Homo sapiens: one gene and its partners. The protein of the gene in region 3 purifies or fractionates together with the protein of the main gene of each other region. This does not show direct contact. Each region holds a gene or a part of one and is shown on either strand. Other genes may lie near its edges.

The links. Proteins that work in one complex are often made in the same cells at the same time.
Region 1: the proteins of DDX39A (region 3) and FAT3 purify together in Homo sapiens (affinity purification with mass spectrometry; 2 studies listed by BioGRID and IntAct, with this or other methods). This does not show direct contact.
Region 2: the proteins of DDX39A (region 3) and CELSR2 purify together in Homo sapiens (affinity purification with mass spectrometry; 2 studies listed by BioGRID and IntAct, with this or other methods). This does not show direct contact.

The regions. Positions count from the first base shown.
Region 1 is NC_000011.10:92,892,808-92,896,993, reverse strand, and holds the end of FAT3 (protocadherin Fat 3 isoform 1 precursor), read right to left. Parts: 3' UTR 521-4,186; downstream 1-520.
Region 2 is NC_000001.11:109,259,529-109,266,558, forward strand, and holds part of CELSR2 (cadherin EGF LAG seven-pass G-type receptor 2 precursor), read left to right. Parts: intron 1-1,513; coding exon 1,514-1,736; intron 1,737-1,984; coding exon 1,985-2,100; intron 2,101-2,279; coding exon 2,280-2,368; intron 2,369-2,758; coding exon 2,759-2,916; intron 2,917-3,277; coding exon 3,278-3,441; intron 3,442-3,613; coding exon 3,614-3,739; intron 3,740-4,082; coding exon 4,083-4,249; intron 4,250-4,549; coding exon 4,550-4,837; intron 4,838-4,925; coding exon 4,926-5,100; intron 5,101-5,339; coding exon 5,340-5,481; intron 5,482-5,662; coding exon 5,663-5,783; intron 5,784-6,206; coding exon 6,207-6,390; intron 6,391-6,576; coding exon 6,577-6,678; intron 6,679-7,030. UniProt on the Homo sapiens protein: Receptor that may have an important role in cell/cell signaling during nervous system formation.
Region 3 is NC_000019.10:14,409,338-14,416,367, reverse strand, and holds part of DDX39A (ATP-dependent RNA helicase DDX39A), read left to right. Parts: intron 1-3,143; 5' UTR 3,144-3,147; coding exon 3,148-3,355; intron 3,356-3,689; coding exon 3,690-3,817; intron 3,818-4,769; coding exon 4,770-4,862; intron 4,863-5,195; coding exon 5,196-5,379; intron 5,380-6,033; coding exon 6,034-6,152; intron 6,153-6,494; coding exon 6,495-6,626; intron 6,627-6,722; coding exon 6,723-6,832; intron 6,833-6,920; coding exon 6,921-7,030. UniProt on the Homo sapiens protein: Helicase that plays an essential role in mRNA export and is involved in multiple steps in RNA metabolism including alternative splicing. Regulates nuclear mRNA export to the cytoplasm through association with ECD.

The DNA of each region.
Region 1 (4,186 bases), on a different chromosome or scaffold from region 3:
TTTTTGGAGGAAAACTCAATTGTGCCCCAAACCTTTGGAAAACTTTTGGAAAAAACCTTATTTATTTATTTATTTATTTTTGAGGGAGAGGAGTGCTGGAGCTGCTGTCTAGAAGAGGTGGGGATGTGCTTAGATTTCCACAGATGTAGGACTCGATGATCTTTATTTGTTCAAGCCTCCAGCACTCTTTTCAATTTTCCCACCAGGGAAAAAATCTCACAAGGCGTGTGCTCAGTAAGAAGTTACATAAGATTTCAACATGTGTACCAGGACAGATAGAAGTTTTTCTGGAGGTAAAAAGTCTCAGGGGGTTGGGGAAGCCACACTAACACAACAAAACTAAAATGTCCCTGTCAGACCAGAGACCCCTCTCTTTGAGAGGTAGACTAGGGCTAAAGAGCTTTTTTGCTCTGTACCACGTCTTTCTACCATGCCCTGTGGAATACACCTCTAAATACCATGCGAGCAATGAACTAAAGACAAAGAAAAGGAAACACTTAAAAAGAGTCAACACAATTGCTAGTTTCATTTTTTTCTTTTTACTTGAAAACTTGTTTTAACCATCAAATTTTGGCAGTTACAAACCTGTACACTGTTGTGTTTTTTTTTGTTGTTGTTGTTTCTTTTTTTTGGCTGTCTTTTTTTTTGTTTGCTTTTGTTTTTTTTTTCTTTTCTTTTCTTTTTTTTTAGAAAAAGAACACAAGACTGAATACTGCCACCAGCAATATATGCAGGAACAATCCATTTCCTTAAGGGACAAAATCCACTCTAAGTGTTAGCTTTCCCCTTTGCATAAGGTTTGGTGTGTGATGTGTGTGCAAGTTGAGGTGAATGTGCATGTATATGAAGAAATGGCATACCTCATTGTGATTCTGAAATTGCATAAAAATAAAATACTTAATAACTGGGCAAAACACATTCTTTTTTACAAATGTCAATAAAGACAATTTTTCTTGAAAACAGAGAAAGTTAAATGAAAACAGTAAGAACCAAAGAAAGGTTACAGTACATTTTGAAATGAGTAAAAAACATCATTTTCAAATCTAAAATCCTTGTGTGTGTGTGTGTGTGTGTAGTTACCTCAAAAGTTTGCAGACCAACAGCGTGGATGACTTACAATTATATTCGACCCCCCAAATTAAAGCATCCTGATAGGCATCAAATATAGTATCTACAAAAGCCTGGAAAATTGAAACCATTTATATACAATTTTATAAACATTTCAAACACCAAAACATACATCTTTTACAAACCAGCCTGTTTGCAACAGGCAAACGTACAAGACAATCTCTCTGATACAGTGCTTAAAAAGAACTGCTTCCATTTCCAAACACATTTGCCACTCCCAAAATGCAGTAGTGTGGGCTCATAAGATTGTTAAATAGTAGCAATTCAGTTATTTGTTTGCCAGAAGGGTACTACAGTACATACTAATTGGTCCAAACACGCTCCAAATGACTCTACGATTCTCAAGTGCATTCTAAACACTAGAAGAGACTAATTATGGCCTTTGTGTATTATTACCTACTTGTAATTATTGCTTTTCATTATTACATAAGGAAAGAAATATCATATTCTTTTCCTATCTCTTAGCCAGCTGGCTAAATATTAATTGATGCCAAACCCACAAATGGTGACTTTAAACCCCAGCATTACACAACCAGAAGCTCAAAGACATTGTGGATTTTCATCAGAATAATGTGCAGTTGAACACTGTGGGACACAAACCAGCAAAAACATATAACCACCTTCTCACAGAGCACACAAAATGATGACAAGGAATAAATGCCTCTTCAAATCTCCATTTCCCATAGTTTGAAACTAAAAACATAAAACATTAAAGCCTAACCACTTTAGCAATACCTGTGCACTGGGAAGGCAGCGGAGTGAAGAGCCAATTATCTGGACAATCCATGCAAAATGAACACTAGATCTTCCTGAATTACTTCACATAAAACTGTTTTCTGGATTTTAATAATTTATTTTGATAATCTCTTTTCTCAATTCCCCTGACTTTGATGATGCAAACATAGCATCAGTGGGGGTAGTGGATAGGGTGGGGTGGGAAGTAAGTAGGAGAGGACTGATGGTAGATATGTTCAACTTGCTTTTTTTCCAGAATGTGCTAGTAATGTCCAAGGGAAGTTCCAGGCAAATCCCAGAAACTAGTTCCCTTTCCAGCCTTTCACATTTATTCCCTAATTGGATGAACCTCAAAGCATGGACCACCTACTCATGTTCCTAAGTCTTTTATATGGCATTTCATGAATAGGCAGGCCAAGGGTACATGGAAAGCTGGCATAGACTAGAATGCAGCAGCAAAATATTCATAGAGGAAAGGGAATAAATGAAGCATGCATTTTATTCACCTTTTATTACTCCCAAGTTCTTGCTTACTATATGACGAGCACCAAGAGTCTAGCTATTCTCAACCTAACCAGAATGTGTGCAATACTAGTAAAGTGCCTACAACAGATTATGGGAAATGGCTTCCAGGAGGTGGCACATACATGTTCGAAAAATGAGAAAGACATTAATTGATTTAAATAGTTTCCACATGGTTCATCATGGTGGAGGGGGTAGGACAAAGAGTAGCCAGTGTTTGTGGGAAGAAAAAAATGCAAAACCAAAACCAAAAATGCAACCAGTAGGTAACAGTATAATCAAAGTTTCACTACAACTGATGACTGGTCTGAGCTGAACTCTGTAATTATCATTTCATCCCTATTATACAAACATTCATTTGGCAAAAGCAGCATTTCGATGAATGTCTACAGAAATGTATGAATTCTATAACCCCTCTCCCTAGGGGGACTGCAAGGAAACATAAGATCATGAGGCTTTCAGAAAAATATTCTCCATGAATTTTCTTTTATAGCATATTCCAAAGAAGGAATGGTGGAAGTCAGAGGGTCCATCAGAACCAGGTGACTCCCATGCTCAAGGCAGTGTAGGGGTGAACAATATGATGTAAAAAGAATATTGGCTAGATGGATGGGTTCTACTCCTTGTTAAGCGAATTAACTTCCTCTGTGGGCTTGGGCAAGTCTCTTTCCCACTCTGGGTATGTTTCCTCTTTGATAAAATAAGGAGTTTGGACTAGCAAATAGGATTCTTCCAGCTTTTTTGAATTAGTGATCATCCCCACCTAGTAGCATCTTGGCCTGACTGCAAAGCATTTCATAATCTACAGAGAAATCTAACTTTCCAAAAAGTGAAGAGATATCATGTGTTTAAAGATAATAAATCAAAACACAATACATGCTTGCCTGGTATATATTTAGCTGCAGAGCTATTCTGCAGAAAATCAGGGGATGATATCCCAAAGAAAGAGATATTTTATATAGGTCACAGCAAAGGGTGGGCACAATTTTCTTCAGTGGCTTCATGACTGCATTAGGATCTATTTATTCTTTCATTACTGTGTCAGTCAGGCATTCTCCCTCAAAGAGATGCTGTGTAAGCAGTAGGGACTCATCAGCATTAATCTCATTCTAATATTTCCTGGGGGCAGGAAATGACATGTTGGTTTTACTTTGATGGTTTTTATGTCATTGCATTACTTAAAGTGTAGCAGTCACTCTATTCTAGGCCATTAGTTTGTCATTTTTTTCCATGATTCTTGCAAATGTGCTTCTTACATAAGAAAAATACCAAAGACTTTGTTCTCGAAAGCAGCCTTAGTGAAATTCATTTATTTCAAGATCACAGTGTGGATAATACCTCCATGAGTAGGTCTGACCAAGAGACAGGAAGAGAAAGGCTGGAAAACTTGTGAAGTGTAGTGTATCCACTTACTTAGAAAGTTTGGGAATGAAAAAGGATTTTTTTTTTTGCATAAACATTCAGAAACACTGACTCATAAAAAAGAAGTGGATTAAACGCAATTGAAATAACTAAAAATATGTCTGAGTGAATAATGCACAGACTAGGGACAGTACAATTTACACACCAATGCCATATGTCATCAGAAACTGTGGACACAGATTTGCTCATTAAGCAGATAGTGCAAATATGCATATATTTACCATGGCCACTGCACAGGCGGCCGTAATCTGATTGAAGCAAAAAAGGAAAGTCCCTCAACCTGTCAACTTTCAGTTTTGAGGACTGGATTGTTATATTTCCAGTGGAATGATTCTCCTGTTAATTTTGGAAATCATGGCCAAAGCCCACAGATGAGAAG
Region 2 (7,030 bases), on a different chromosome or scaffold from region 3:
GGAACGCTGAGATTGGGTGACTTGCTCCTGGTCTCATCACACCCGGTTTAGAGGTGAGGCTGGGCCTAGAACCTGGTCTCTCCCCCACTGAGCGAGTTCCTTTTCTGAGCTGCAGCAAGTACTTTTCTCCCCAGGCATTAAGGGGAAGACACAGAAGAGCTGGGGGAACTGGAGGGGGTTGAGTTCTGAGATGGGGTGCTCCAGAAAACCATTGCACCTGTATGGGCCTGGGCAGAATGGCTCCGCCTCCGCCCAGCTGCTGGTAAAAGAGGATCCTGGCTAGGCGGCTTCCCTGTTGGCCTGTCAGCCAAGGTCTTTACACATCCTGCTCCCTGGGATGCTCACTGTCTCTGCTCTATGCTCCTGACCCCTCCCTTCAGGCTCCTGTGTCTTCTCAGGACACCCCCTGCTCCCCTTCCCTGTGGGCCTTTCCTTCCTAGATGCCCAGGCCCTGCTCCTTGTCCTCCAGGGCCATGCCCACTGGCTCTGCCAGCAGCCATAGGCAGGCCCCACTCCTTCCCCGCTGCATCTTCCTGCCCAGAACTTGCCAGACTTGACTTCTCTCTGCTGCTGCTAGGGGTGGGGGGAAGGGGAGGGACGGGCTTGGGGGAGGGGAGAGAAGTCTTTGTCCAGGAGGATGGTGGGGGGGGTTGGGAGGGGGGGGGTTAGAGCAGGCGAACAACAGTTTCCATGGAAACAAGAGCCAGTCACTAGGCACAGGAGCTGAGAACCTATCTCTAGAATCTGGGAATGGGGAGGGAGAGAAGGGTGGATTTTCCCATCTGATGTTGGAGTTTTCAGCTCCTCTGTTGAATTCTTGTCTGCTCTCAGGGCTCAGTTTCCCACTCTCAGCATGTCCCAGGTGCACAGAGGTCCTTAGTCTGGACCGCAGGGCTCAAGGTGGGAGTCCTCTGCCCCATTCCTGGGGGCTCCCCAGCTTCTCTCTCATACTCTTCCATAACCCAGACAAATCTAAGTGGAAGCCTGGTCCCATCCCCAGGGAGGGAAACTGATCTCAGTGCCTGAGAGGGACAAAAGCACCAGTGGGAAGGAGGGAGGAGGGAGGCTCCCAGCCCTCCCGCTGTCCTGCAGGCCCATCTGCTTGTGCACATTTACCCTCTTGGGGGCCAGGACACCCCCAGGTGTGCTTGGTAGTGTGACATCGAAGGCTCCCGGGATCCGGGCCTTACAACCAAGTGTCCCAGCAGGCCTGTGCTTATGAAACCCAAATGGGGTAGGGAAGGTGCTGGGGACTCCGAGGAACTTGCAGGGGAGCAGTGCGTGGAGCTGTGGCGAGAGCGGCTCAGTGAGCCAAACAGGGTGCCCATGAAGGGCTGGGGACCATAGGTCTCAGAGAAGATGGCACACGAGAGGAAGTGGGGATGCCTGGGAGGTTTGGGGAGTATTACGAGGGTCACGGGAGGCCATGGGAGCTATCACTGGGTTGTGGGGGGTCTCAGTTCCCCTCCTGTCCTCAGGTACTTGGTACTCACCTGCCTTTCCTCTTGTCCAGGTGAGCACTGTGAGGTGAGTGCTCGCTCAGGCCGTTGCACCCCGGGTGTCTGCAAGAATGGGGGCACCTGTGTCAACCTGCTGGTGGGCGGTTTCAAGTGCGATTGCCCATCTGGAGACTTCGAGAAGCCCTACTGCCAGGTGACCACGCGCAGCTTCCCCGCCCACTCCTTCATCACCTTTCGCGGCCTGCGCCAGCGTTTCCACTTCACCCTGGCCCTCTCGTGAGTGGCTGGGCACTGGGGGTGGGGAGTGGGCCTGGTGGGCATCTGAGGTGCCTCCTGTTCTGTGGTTGAAGTAAGAGGTCAGGCAGTGAAAGCGTGGAGCAGGCTGCCGGCAGAGCCAGGTCTGCTCTTGGAGTTGCCTGTGGTTCTGCCAGCAGATCTCCCTCCCCTGCGCTGGTTAGGTGGCGGGGGTGCTGGCATCCAGGTGGGTACCCCATTCCCTGCCCCCATCCCCAACTCCTGTTCAGGTTTGCCACAAAGGAGCGCGACGGGTTGCTGTTGTACAATGGGCGTTTCAATGAGAAGCATGACTTTGTGGCCCTCGAGGTGATCCAGGAGCAGGTCCAGCTCACCTTCTCTGCAGGTGATCACAGTTGCCCCCCATCCTTGCCCATCTTCCAAAGGCCCCAAGTCTTCCAGCCCCTGACCCCAAGCCACATACTCTATCAGCCAAATCTGGGCCCAGCCCCAGCCACTGGCACCCCAAACCCTGCCATTCCTAGCCCTCGTCAGGCATTCCAGCTCACCTGGTCCTTTCCCCAGGGGAGTCAACCACCACGGTGTCCCCATTCGTGCCCGGAGGAGTCAGTGATGGCCAGTGGCATACGGTGCAGCTGAAATACTACAATAAGGTGGGTGTGGAGGGCACAGAGGGTTGGGGGTTCTGTTCTTGCCTCAGGTGCTTACCCAGCCCTGAGTGGCATTGCCTCCAGGCTTGGGTGGGCTGGTCAGGGCATTTCTGGCTGAGAGGAAGGGAGCGGCTGGGAAGGTGCCACCTTGCTGGGCATTCCCACCCCACTGGGCACTGCTCGATGCTCTCTGTTCCACTAGGCAGCCGCAAACTTGGACACTGAGGAAGGTAGTTACATGCATAAACCACGTGAGCACACGTGTGTGTATATGCATGTGTGTACGTGTGTCTGGGCATGTGGGTGCACACAGAGGCACCCAGTGTGTGCTGGCCATGAACCTAGTGGGCTCTGTACTCAGTGTCCCCCTTCTCTGCTCTTTCCTGTCCACAGCCACTGTTGGGTCAGACAGGGCTCCCACAGGGCCCATCAGAGCAGAAGGTGGCTGTGGTGACCGTGGATGGCTGTGACACAGGAGTGGCCTTGCGCTTCGGATCTGTCCTGGGCAACTACTCCTGTGCTGCCCAGGGCACCCAGGGTGGCAGCAAGAAGTGAGCAGGGGAAAGGGCCAGGGATGGGGTGAAGTGAGGGCAGGGCCAGGCAGGGAGGGAAGGTGGAGAGGGTGGGCTTTTGGGGTCTCTCTCCCTTTGCCTCTCTTAGCCCCTGCTCAGCCCTGGGGATGGGGTCAAGACTGGGGAATCAGAGCAAGGCCCTGTGGGGCAGTCTGGGGAGGGGGCTGAGTGTTCGACAAGAACAGTTCCAGGTAGGGGTGACGCCCTTCCTGAGCACTGCTCTGCAGGGCCTCTTGGACACCTGCCTACGCCGTTCGTGTCTCTGGCCTGGCGGCAGAGCGAGCGGAGGACCAGAAGCTCCCAGCCCTCCCTTGTGCCGCCACCATCTTTGCTCCCCCAGGTCTCTGGATCTGACGGGGCCCCTGCTACTAGGCGGGGTGCCTGACCTGCCCGAGAGCTTCCCAGTCCGAATGCGGCAGTTCGTGGGCTGCATGCGGAACCTGCAGGTGGACAGCCGGCACATAGACATGGCTGACTTCATTGCCAACAATGGCACCGTGCCTGGTATGGGGGCCCGGGGTGGAGCCAGGCTGGGATCCCAGTGCTGAGAGGAGGGGCTGTGCCTGGTGTGAGGATGCCAGAATGGAGGGTCTCAGAGGCCTCTCTAACTGCTGCCACAGGCTTTCTCTTTAGAGCCCCAGCTCAGGTCCACTGAGCTGCCTTCTCTCCATTCCAGGCTGCCCTGCCAAGAAGAACGTGTGTGACAGCAACACTTGCCACAATGGGGGCACTTGCGTGAACCAGTGGGACGCGTTCAGCTGCGAGTGCCCCCTGGGCTTTGGGGGCAAGAGCTGCGCCCAGGGTAGGAGGGGCGGCTGTTAGAGGCCACAGCCTGGGTGCCATCAACAGTCTGGGAACTGGCAGGGTTGGGGCAGGCACTGGGCAGGGCTCTGCTGAGCGGGGCTGTGGGTGGAAAAGCGTGTCTGGGCAGAGCCCTGAAAGGGCAACACAGGAGACAAAGGGGCCAGTCAGAGGCAGGCCTGGGCACAGCGTGGGGCGGTCCCAGGGCAGGTACGCACTTTGGAGGGCGGGGCTGATGAGGGGAGTGGGCTCTGCCTCCCGTGCAGCCGCCACCGCTGAGCATCACAGCCCCAGGGCCCTCTGAGGCTCCACCCGTCACAGTCTGCCTTTTCCTGCCTCCCCAGAAATGGCCAATCCACAGCACTTCCTGGGCAGCAGCCTGGTGGCCTGGCATGGCCTCTCGCTGCCCATCTCCCAACCCTGGTACCTCAGCCTCATGTTCCGCACGCGCCAGGCCGACGGTGTCCTGCTGCAGGCCATCACCAGGGGGCGCAGCACCATCACCCTACAGGTGATGCATGGAAGGGCGGCTGGCCCTGGCCTGGCCATAGGGCCCTGGTAGCCTCTAGGCGGCTGGACAGAAGTGGCTGGGCAGGTCCTGGGCAGGGGTGGGGACATATAGAGGCCGCTGGATCCGTTGGGAAGGTCAATGCTGCCACCTGTTGGGCCTGAGGGAAATAAATACGCTTTCCTCTCTATGGCCTCAGCTGGGCAGCGGGATGGGTTTGATGGTCCAGAAAGGGGAACTGTGAGCTGGAGAACAGTGATTAAGGCCGTCTGCTGACCCTGTTTTCTTTCCTCCTGGTGTCAGCTACGAGAGGGCCACGTGATGCTGAGCGTGGAGGGCACAGGGCTTCAGGCCTCCTCTCTCCGTCTGGAGCCAGGCCGGGCCAATGACGGTGACTGGCACCATGCACAGCTGGCACTGGGAGCCAGCGGGGGGCCCGGCCATGCCATTCTGTCCTTCGATTATGGGCAGCAGAGAGCAGAGGGCAACCTGGGCCCCCGGCTGCATGGTCTGCACCTGAGCAACATAACAGTGGGCGGAATACCTGGGCCAGCCGGCGGTGTGGCCCGTGGCTTTCGGGGCTGTTTGCAGGTGAGTGTCCTGCCCTGCCCTCCCATCCCCTCCCCCACCACCTGCAGCCCCGCTCCACTGAGGGCAACACTGCTCCTGTCCCTCCCAGGGTGTGCGGGTGAGCGATACGCCGGAGGGGGTTAACAGCCTGGATCCCAGCCATGGGGAGAGCATCAACGTGGAGCAAGGCTGTAGCCTGCCTGACCCTTGTGACTCAAACCCGTGTCCTGCTAACAGCTATTGCAGCAACGACTGGGACAGCTATTCCTGCAGCTGTGATCCAGGTATGCTAAGGATCCAGGGCAACGGGCAGGTTATCAGGTGCCTGGGGCCACATGCTGGCTCTGCTGTGTGACCTGGGGCATGGGGCATCACACCACCTCTCTGAGTCTTAGTTGCCTACACAACAAAGCCATAGCCAGCTGATAGGATGCTATGTGGAAAGAAACAGATGAAGGGTTTGATGGAAGATGGTGCCAGGGGAGGGTGGGGGAATGAGCCTCTCTGGTCCTTCTGGTCCCAGGTTACTATGGTGACAACTGTACTAATGTGTGTGACCTGAACCCGTGTGAGCACCAGTCTGTGTGTACCCGCAAGCCCAGTGCCCCCCATGGCTATACCTGCGAGTGTCCCCCAAATTACCTTGGGCCATACTGTGAGACCAGGTAAGCAGACCAGGGCATGTGGCAGCAGGTCCCAGTGGCTGCTGCTTCTCTCTGGTGTGTCCCTCAGAGCCCCGAAAGCCTGGCTGATCCACAGCCAGGGTCAGAAGGGCCACATAGGGCTCACCTAGGTTAGGTGGGAGTGGCAGGGGGAGCTCATGCCTACCTGGGTCCCTCTCTGCAGGATTGACCAGCCTTGTCCCCGTGGCTGGTGGGGACATCCCACATGTGGCCCATGCAACTGTGATGTCAGCAAAGGCTTTGACCCAGACTGCAACAAGACAAGCGGCGAGTGCCACTGCAAGGTGACAGCCCCAAGCAAGCCTCCACTGTGGCCACTTGGGCCTCTGTCCACATCTCCTGGGCCCTAGAGGGCAGGCTGTAGGGATGGGTCTTCCTGTAGAGCTGAGGGCCTTGTGCCTTTGCTCTCACAGGCAGGGCAGTTGGCTGCTTACCTTCGTGTGTCTGAGGCGCAGGGGGACCCTGGGCCAATGTGTAACCCATGAGCTCTGGCCTGGTGTGGTGGTGGTTTGCAGCCTGTTCTGATTCTGTGACATCTCGCTGATGGGCTCAACTCCAAAGCATTGCTAGTGTTAATTATTTTGAATACTGCTCCTGAGGGGACCTGAGGTCGGGACCCTCTCCACAGGGGCCACAGCTGAGAAGGACCCATGAGCATCCTGGGAAGAGAGCCTGGCCAGTGACACCGTTCTTCCCTCCTTTCTCAGGAGAACCACTACCGGCCCCCAGGCAGCCCCACCTGCCTCTTGTGTGACTGCTACCCCACAGGCTCCTTGTCCAGAGTCTGTGACCCTGAGGATGGCCAGTGTCCATGCAAGCCAGGTGTCATCGGGCGTCAGTGTGACCGCTGTGACAACCCTTTTGCTGAGGTCACCACCAATGGCTGTGAAGGTGGGGCTCCTGGGATGGGTGGGCAGCCCTCCTTACAGTGTGCTAGGCACCTGCACCCCAGGAAAGCCAGGAAGGGGCTGGTTGCAGGCCTGGGGAGGCCTGGGGAGGCCTAGGGAGGGCTGGGGAGCCTGGGCAGGACAGCAGAGGGAGAGCTGCTCCTGGGTGACCATGTGCTCTTCCCCGCAGTGAATTATGACAGCTGCCCACGAGCGATTGAGGCTGGGATCTGGTGGCCCCGTACCCGCTTCGGGCTGCCTGCTGCTGCTCCCTGTCCCAAAGGCTCCTTTGGTAGGTGTTGGAGGCCCCGATGTGATGTCGAGGACATGGCCTCTGCTGTTAGTGGGATGAGGGCAGGAAGCTCCTGGCTGAAGATCCGGGGACCCCACTTTCTGGCCTCCAGGTCCTGGGATTTCATTTCCCATCTTCCTTGGTTCACATTCCCCCTTCCCCATGTTGCCCAGGTGTGCCTACATCTTGGACTGTTTTGTTTTGTTTTGGTTTGGTTTTTTTTCTGGGACAGAGTCTGTCACTGTCACCCAGGCTGGTGTGCAGTGGCGTGATCTCCGCTCGCTGCAACCTCTGCCTCCCAGGTTCAAGCAATTTTCCTGCCTAAGCCTCTGGCCGCCACCACACCTGGCTA
Region 3 (7,030 bases):
CTGTGAGGAAATGCCTTTCTGGAGCAAAGGAGGCCCAAAAGAAGTGGGGGATTTGTGACCCTTCCAGGCAGCAGGAACAGCAAGTGCAAAGGTGCTGAGGTGTGTTTGAGACACGGCAGCAAGGCTGGCGAGTGAGGGGCAATGGGGGAGATGAGGTATGAGTATAGAGGAGTCGGGTTAGGAGGGGCCCGGTAGGCTGGCTTTGTGAGGACTCGAGTTTTTTTCTAAGCACAGTAGGAACCCATTAAAAGTTTTGAGCAGAATAGTGATGTACTCTTAGGTTTGTTTTTTTTTTTGAGACAGAGTCTTGGTCTTGCTCTGTCGCCCAGGCTGGAGGGCCATGGTGTGATCTCGGCTCTCTGCAACCTCTGCCTCCTAGGTTCAAGTGATTCTCCTGCCTCCAAGTAGCTGGGATTACAGGTACCCGCCACCACACCCGGCACATTTTTGGTATTTTTAGTAGAGATGGGGTTTCACCATGTTGGTCAGGCTGGTCCTGGACTCCTGACCTCAGGTGGTCCGCCCGCCTAGGCCTCCCAAAGTGCTGGGATTACAGGTGTGAGCCACCGCGCCTGGCCGTGACTTAGTTTGATAGGGTCTTTCTGGCTGCTCTGGGGAGGGGCTGGGGGATGGCAACAGGGAAACCAGGGAGGAGGATATTGGCTTAATTCAGGCAAGAGATGATGGCACCTACATGTCCAGCTGACAGTGGTTAAGCAAAATGTAGTATGTTGGTGAGATGGAACATTAGGTGACCATGGAAAGAAATGAGGCCAGGTGTGGTGGCTCACACCTGTAATCCCAGCACTTTGGAAGGCTGAGGTGGGCGGATCGCCTGAGCCCACAAGTTGGAGATCAGCTTGGGCAACATGGTGAAACCCCATCTCTGTTACAAATACAAAAATTAGTGGTGGCGGGCGCATGTAGCTCCTGCTACTAGGGAGGCTGAGGTGGGAAGATCGCTTGATTGAGCCCGGGAGGCAGAGGTTGAAGTGAGCTTTGATTGGGCCACTGCACTCCAGCCTGGGCAACAGAGCAAGACCTTGTCTCAAAGAGGGGGGAAAAAAAAGGAAGGGAGTACTGATGATGTGGTAGAGCACACTGTGCTGAGTGAAAGAAGCCAGACACAAAATGTCACAAATTATAAGATTTCATTTATGTGAAATGTCCACAACAACAGGCAAATCCATAGAAACAGAAAGCAGATTAGTGGTTGCCCGGGGCTGGGGTGGGGTGTTTAGGGTATGGATACGTAAAGGGTACAGGAGCTTTTATTTCAAGGTGATGAAGTATTCTAAAATTGCACATGTGGTAGTGGTTGCACATGTCTGTGACTACACTAAAAACCACTGAATTATCTGCCTTAAGTGGTGAGTTGTATAGCATGTAAATATCTCTGTGAAGCTTTTCTTTTTTTTTTTTTTTTTTTTTAGGCTGGAGTGAAGCGTGATTTCAGCCCATCACAACCTCCGCCTCCCAGGTTTAAGCAATTTTTCTGCCTCAGCTTCCCGAGTAGCTGGGATTATAGGCGCCTGCCACCATGCCTGGCTAAATTTTTGTATTTTTAGTAGAGTTGGGGTTTCACCATGTTGGTCAGGCTGGTCTCGAACTCCTGACTTCAGGTGACCCACCCGCCTTGGTCTCTCAAAAGTGCTGGGATTACAGGCGTGAGCCACCGCGCGCAGCCTGTAAAGCTGTTCTAGTTAAAAATAATAATAAGGCCAGGCGCGGTGGCTCACACCTGTAATCCCAGCACTTTAGGAGGCTGAGGTGGGTAGATCATGAGGTCAGGAGTTTGAGACCAGCCTGACCAACATGGTGAAACCCTGTCTCTACGAAAACTACAAAAATTAGCTGGGCATGGTGGCAAGCACCTGTAATCCCAGATACTCAGGAGGCTGAGGCAGGAGAATCTTGAACCCTGGAGGTGGAGGTTGCAGTGAGCCGAGGTTGCGCCACTGCACTGCAGCCTGGGTGACAGCAAGACTTCATCTCAATAATAATAATAATAATAATAATAATAATAATAATAATAATAATAAAACAGGTGATAGCAGCTTGGGGCCAGCATGGTAGCATAGGTGAGAACTGGCCAGAGGGCCTTGGTGGGATTCACTGCCTCATGGACAGGGAGGTTGAGAGAGAGAAAACAGCCATTGAGACAATGGAATTGCTGTTTCTGAGCCGGGAATGAGTGACAGCGAGGCCAAAAGTGGCCTAGGATCCTCAGCATCCAGCCTCAGGAAGAATTGTAGCAGCTGTCACCCTCTGCTCCACCCCCCACTGGAGTCTGGGGTAGGGGAGGAGGACGAAAGACAATTGTCCTCATGTTTGGGTCCCTTGCACCCAGCAGGCACTTGGTATGCATTAGATTAATAAAGCAAAGAGGTAGGCAGACTTTGTATTAATTCCATTTTCCATCTTCTCAGCTTTATTTTTATTGGCCCAGGCCCAATAGGAGGCCTTTCATGAGAGCACTTAATTATTCCCCTGTGCAGACCACAGAGAGTGGGAGAAGCTGGGGCTGGACAGATACTGCTTGCTCTCTCGCAAACTCAGTTCCCACCAGCATCCTGGCAGCCCCACCCCTGGGATCTTTGGGCTCCTGCCCCATGAAAGCCCAGTGGGTTCCTTGGGGAGTGATAGGGAGGGGGCTTCTCTGGGCTGAGTAGTCTGAGGAGGTTCACTGGAGCTGAGGCTTGCGTGTGGAGAAGGAGGCATTTGTGCAGAGACCTGGGGGCAGAGCATTCCTGGCGGTGACAGCCAGGTTCAAAGGCTTGGGGCAGGGGCTCCAGGGGTCTGAGCAGCTGAACAAGGCTGGGGGTGGTGTGGGATGAGGTGAGCAGGGGTCAAACCAAGGGGATTGCCTGGCCTGTGGTGAGAGTTGGGATTTTAACTCTGTGAGCCATGGGAAGCCCTTGGAGGTGGAGGGTGTTCTGTCTGTGGGTGTGGCCAGAGGGGCATGGGGGAGAGATGGGGTAGCTTGGGGGTGGGGAGGTGGAGACAGGGCGAAGCTGCGAGGTGCAGCCCAGGTAGAGCTGATGGGCTCACTCATGGAAGGAGGCGGCAGAGAATGCCATTTGAATGAAGCTTCATCATCCTTCTGTGCCCACTCGCGGGACCCTGCCTCTCTCTCTTCTCAGCATCATGGCAGAACAGGATGTGGAAAACGATCTTTTGGATTACGATGAAGAGGAAGAGCCCCAGGCTCCTCAAGAGAGCACACCAGCTCCCCCTAAGAAAGACATCAAGGGATCCTACGTTTCCATCCACAGCTCTGGCTTCCGGGACTTTCTGCTGAAGCCGGAGCTCCTGCGGGCCATCGTGGACTGTGGCTTTGAGCATCCTTCTGAGGGTACGCCTTCTGGGTGTTATCCTCTTGCCCAGGTCCTCACCAAGACAAGACCAGCCCTGCCCGCCCAGAGCGGTGCCGCCTCCAGTTTGCCGTGGGTGAGGGAGGGGCCCGTCTGTCCCGCGGATCAGTTGTGCCCAGCGGGGCCTGTGGCTGCCCTCGGCAGTGGGGCGTTCTGCTTTGACCAGGCGGATACCCCAGCCCTGCAGGTGTCTGTGGCCTTGTCCGGACTCGGCCTCTTCTGATTGCCCTCACTGTGGGCCCCCGGTCAACTGGTGAGGATCCTGCACGGGGGTGCATCCAGGTTCTCGTCCCTCACGCTCTGCTTCTCCTGCAGTCCAGCATGAGTGCATTCCCCAGGCCATCCTGGGCATGGACGTCCTGTGCCAGGCCAAGTCCGGGATGGGCAAGACAGCGGTCTTCGTGCTGGCCACCCTACAGCAGATTGAGCCTGTCAACGGACAGGTGGGTGGGCTCCTCCCTTCCTGGCCCCACCCTGCCTGTGGCGGCGGAAGTAGAGTAGGCTGGATGGGGTGGCTCACACCTGTTAGCCCAGTGCTTTGGGAAGCTGAGGCTGGAGGATTGCTTGAGCCCAGGAAGTCGAGGCTGCAGTGTGCTATGATCACACCACTGCACTCCAGCCTGGGTGGCAGAGGTAGACTCCATCTCAAAAAATAATTAGTTATAACAAAAATTAGAAATTGCCAATAAGCCAAAATAACTGGAAAGTGCCCACAGTTTGCCCCTTGCCCCAGAGGCATCGTTGCTGTTTTGCCGTGCCACTTACCTAGAGAGTGTCCATCTGTGAAGGTTGGGTTGCCCCGAATATAGCTGTCACCACTGTCCTTGCTGTTAGGCCCTGGCTGTCTTCTCCCATTGTCTTGTGTGCCACTGTCCTGGGGAGACACTTCAGTGAATTCTGGTGTCTTGCTCCCGAGTCAGGCCAGGTGCACATCTTTGGGCTTCATATTGGCGCCCGTGCCCTCGTTATCTCAGAGCACATCCTGAAGGATGAAGGTGCTGTGGAGGGCTGTGGTGTGGTCCAGTGTCTGATGGCACGGGTGGGAAGACCGGGGCCGCCCGAGTGCCGAGATTCAGGAAATCCTTAGAGAGCCAGGTCCCATGTCACCCAGGCAGGCCAGGTCTAACCATTACATTATGCGGGCCATTTTCTGTTCCATTTTCTGTTTCTTATTGTGGGTCCTGGTGTTGGGAGACAGGTTTCAATAGCTGTGGGAGGGTATAGGGAGTGAGGGGTGGGGAAGGGCCGTGAGAAGTGGGAGGCATTTGGACCGGGCCTTCAAATGGCCTGTGATGTTGGGTGCAGTGTCAGGGGGACTGGGTTGGGTGGACTCTGGTGGGGAAGGGGTTTAGGACACTGCCTAAGGTAAGGCCCTCTTCTTATGCCACTTCCCAGGTGACGGTCCTGGTCATGTGCCACACGAGGGAGCTGGCCTTCCAGATCAGCAAGGAATATGAGCGCTTTTCCAAGTACATGCCCAGCGTCAAGGTGAGTCCCTCGGGCCAGACTGGACCAGGCGCCACTTGGTTTCTGCAGCTTTGTTAGCCTCGGCTCTGGCCCAGCCAGCATTTACCAAGCTTGGCAGGGGCAGCTGCCTTTGAGGTTTGCGGTGGTTTTTGCTCCTTAAAAGCCTGATGAATTATGCATGGCTCCCAGGGGCCTGCGCAGGTCCCAGCCTGGGGCTGCCTTTGAGTGGAGCCCCGGGAGGCTCTCAGGCCTGCCTTGGTCCCCTGAGGCCTCCTGTTCGCAGGTGCTGGGCCGTGCAGGTTGGGGCCTTGGGCCGTGTATCAGCATGGAGCGGTTTCCTCCTCATCCCCATAGGTGTCTGTGTTCTTCGGTGGTCTCTCCATCAAGAAGGATGAAGAAGTGTTGAAGAAGAACTGTCCCCATGTCGTGGTGGGGACCCCGGGCCGCATCCTGGCGCTCGTGCGGAATAGGAGCTTCAGCCTAAAGAATGTGAAGCACTTTGTGCTGGACGAGTGTGACAAGATGCTGGAGCAGCTGGGTGAGTCCTCTGCCCTTGCAGCCCCAGCTGAGAGTCAGTGACTAGGCGGGCCCCATAGCAGGCGGAAGGCTCTTGAGTGGGTTACATGGGCGGCCGGCAGGCGGGGCTCCTGTGGTGATCTTGGGGAAAGCTCTGCTGCTGGCAGAGGGATGTGCTGTTTCTGAGCCCGAGCCGAATGGGACCACGGGGCCCAAGCAAGCCCCCGTCCCTCCTGGACGTAAAGGCATGCACACATACCTCTGGGAGTATGAGGCTTCTGCCACCTGTTGGGTTGGTTCCAGGCCCCGCCTGCCCTCAGTGAGCCCCGACAGGGCCGGTGGGAGATGGGCTTGTGTCCTGGGAGGCAGCTGCAGCTCTCACCCCAGCGGCTGTCTCTGCCTCAGGCTCCCCTCCCTGAAGCGTGGCTCGAGGCGCACGGGCACGGCTGCTCCGCGCCAGCGTGTAAGTGGATTGCAGCTCCTCCCGCGCCTGCGCTCGCTGGCCACCCCCCAGCCCCTCAGGCACCAGGACTGGCCACTCCCGCGGCTCACTCTGCCCTCGTCACGGTGCCACTGGCTCCCTGGCACAGGTTGGGAGGGGTCTGGGTCTGGTCTGGGGTGGGGGTCCTGCATGGCAGACGCTCATGCCCACCCATGTCTTGCCCTCCCCACCTAGACATGCGGCGGGATGTGCAGGAGATCTTCCGCCTGACACCACACGAGAAGCAGTGCATGATGTTCAGCGCCACCCTGAGCAAGGACATCCGGCCTGTGTGCAGGAAGTTCATGCAGGATGTGAGTAGGGCGAGAGTGGCAGCTTTGGCCTTCCCCAGGGGCCTGGAGCCTGGGGCCCCAGGACACCCGCACGGCCCACATGGCACGGAGGATGCTGGGATGCTGGGAGCCGGCGGAGCCTCCTTTCCTCCCCTCGGTCTTGTCAAACTGGGAGTCAAGCTTGGTCCACACCTGAGTCGGGCCAGAGCTTACATCCAGCTTTTGAGCGATGTTTACTGAGGTCTGGTGCAGCAGGTCCTCTGGGAAGTGTCGCACAAAGGAGTCGCCCACTGGAAGGTTCTGGGCAGGCGAGATGCCCAGAGGTGATCCCTGCCCGCCCCTCCCACCTCCCTTCCCACACAGCCCATGGAGGTGTTTGTGGACGACGAGACCAAGCTCACGCTGCACGGCCTGCAGCAGTACTACGTCAAACTCAAAGACAGTGAGAAGAACCGCAAGCTCTTTGATCTCTTGGATGTGCTGGAGTTTAACCAGGTGATACTTCCATCAGCCTGTCCTGGGGCTCAGGACCTTCGGGAGGTCACTGGGCCACAGGGACTGTGTGGCCCTGACTGCCACTCCTTCCCTCAGGTGATAATCTTCGTCAAGTCAGTGCAGCGCTGCATGGCCCTGGCCCAGCTCCTCGTGGAGCAGAACTTCCCGGCCATCGCCATCCACCGGGGCATGGCCCAGGAGGAGCGGTGAGTGCGAGCCGCCCGCCAAGGCTGCAGGGAGCACCACCAGGAGCCCAGTGTCTGACGGCCTCCACTTGTTTCTCCTGCACCCCAGCCTGTCACGCTATCAGCAGTTCAAGGATTTCCAGCGGCGGATCCTGGTGGCCACCAATCTGTTTGGCCGGGGGATGGACATCGAGCGAGTCAACATCGTCTTTAACTACG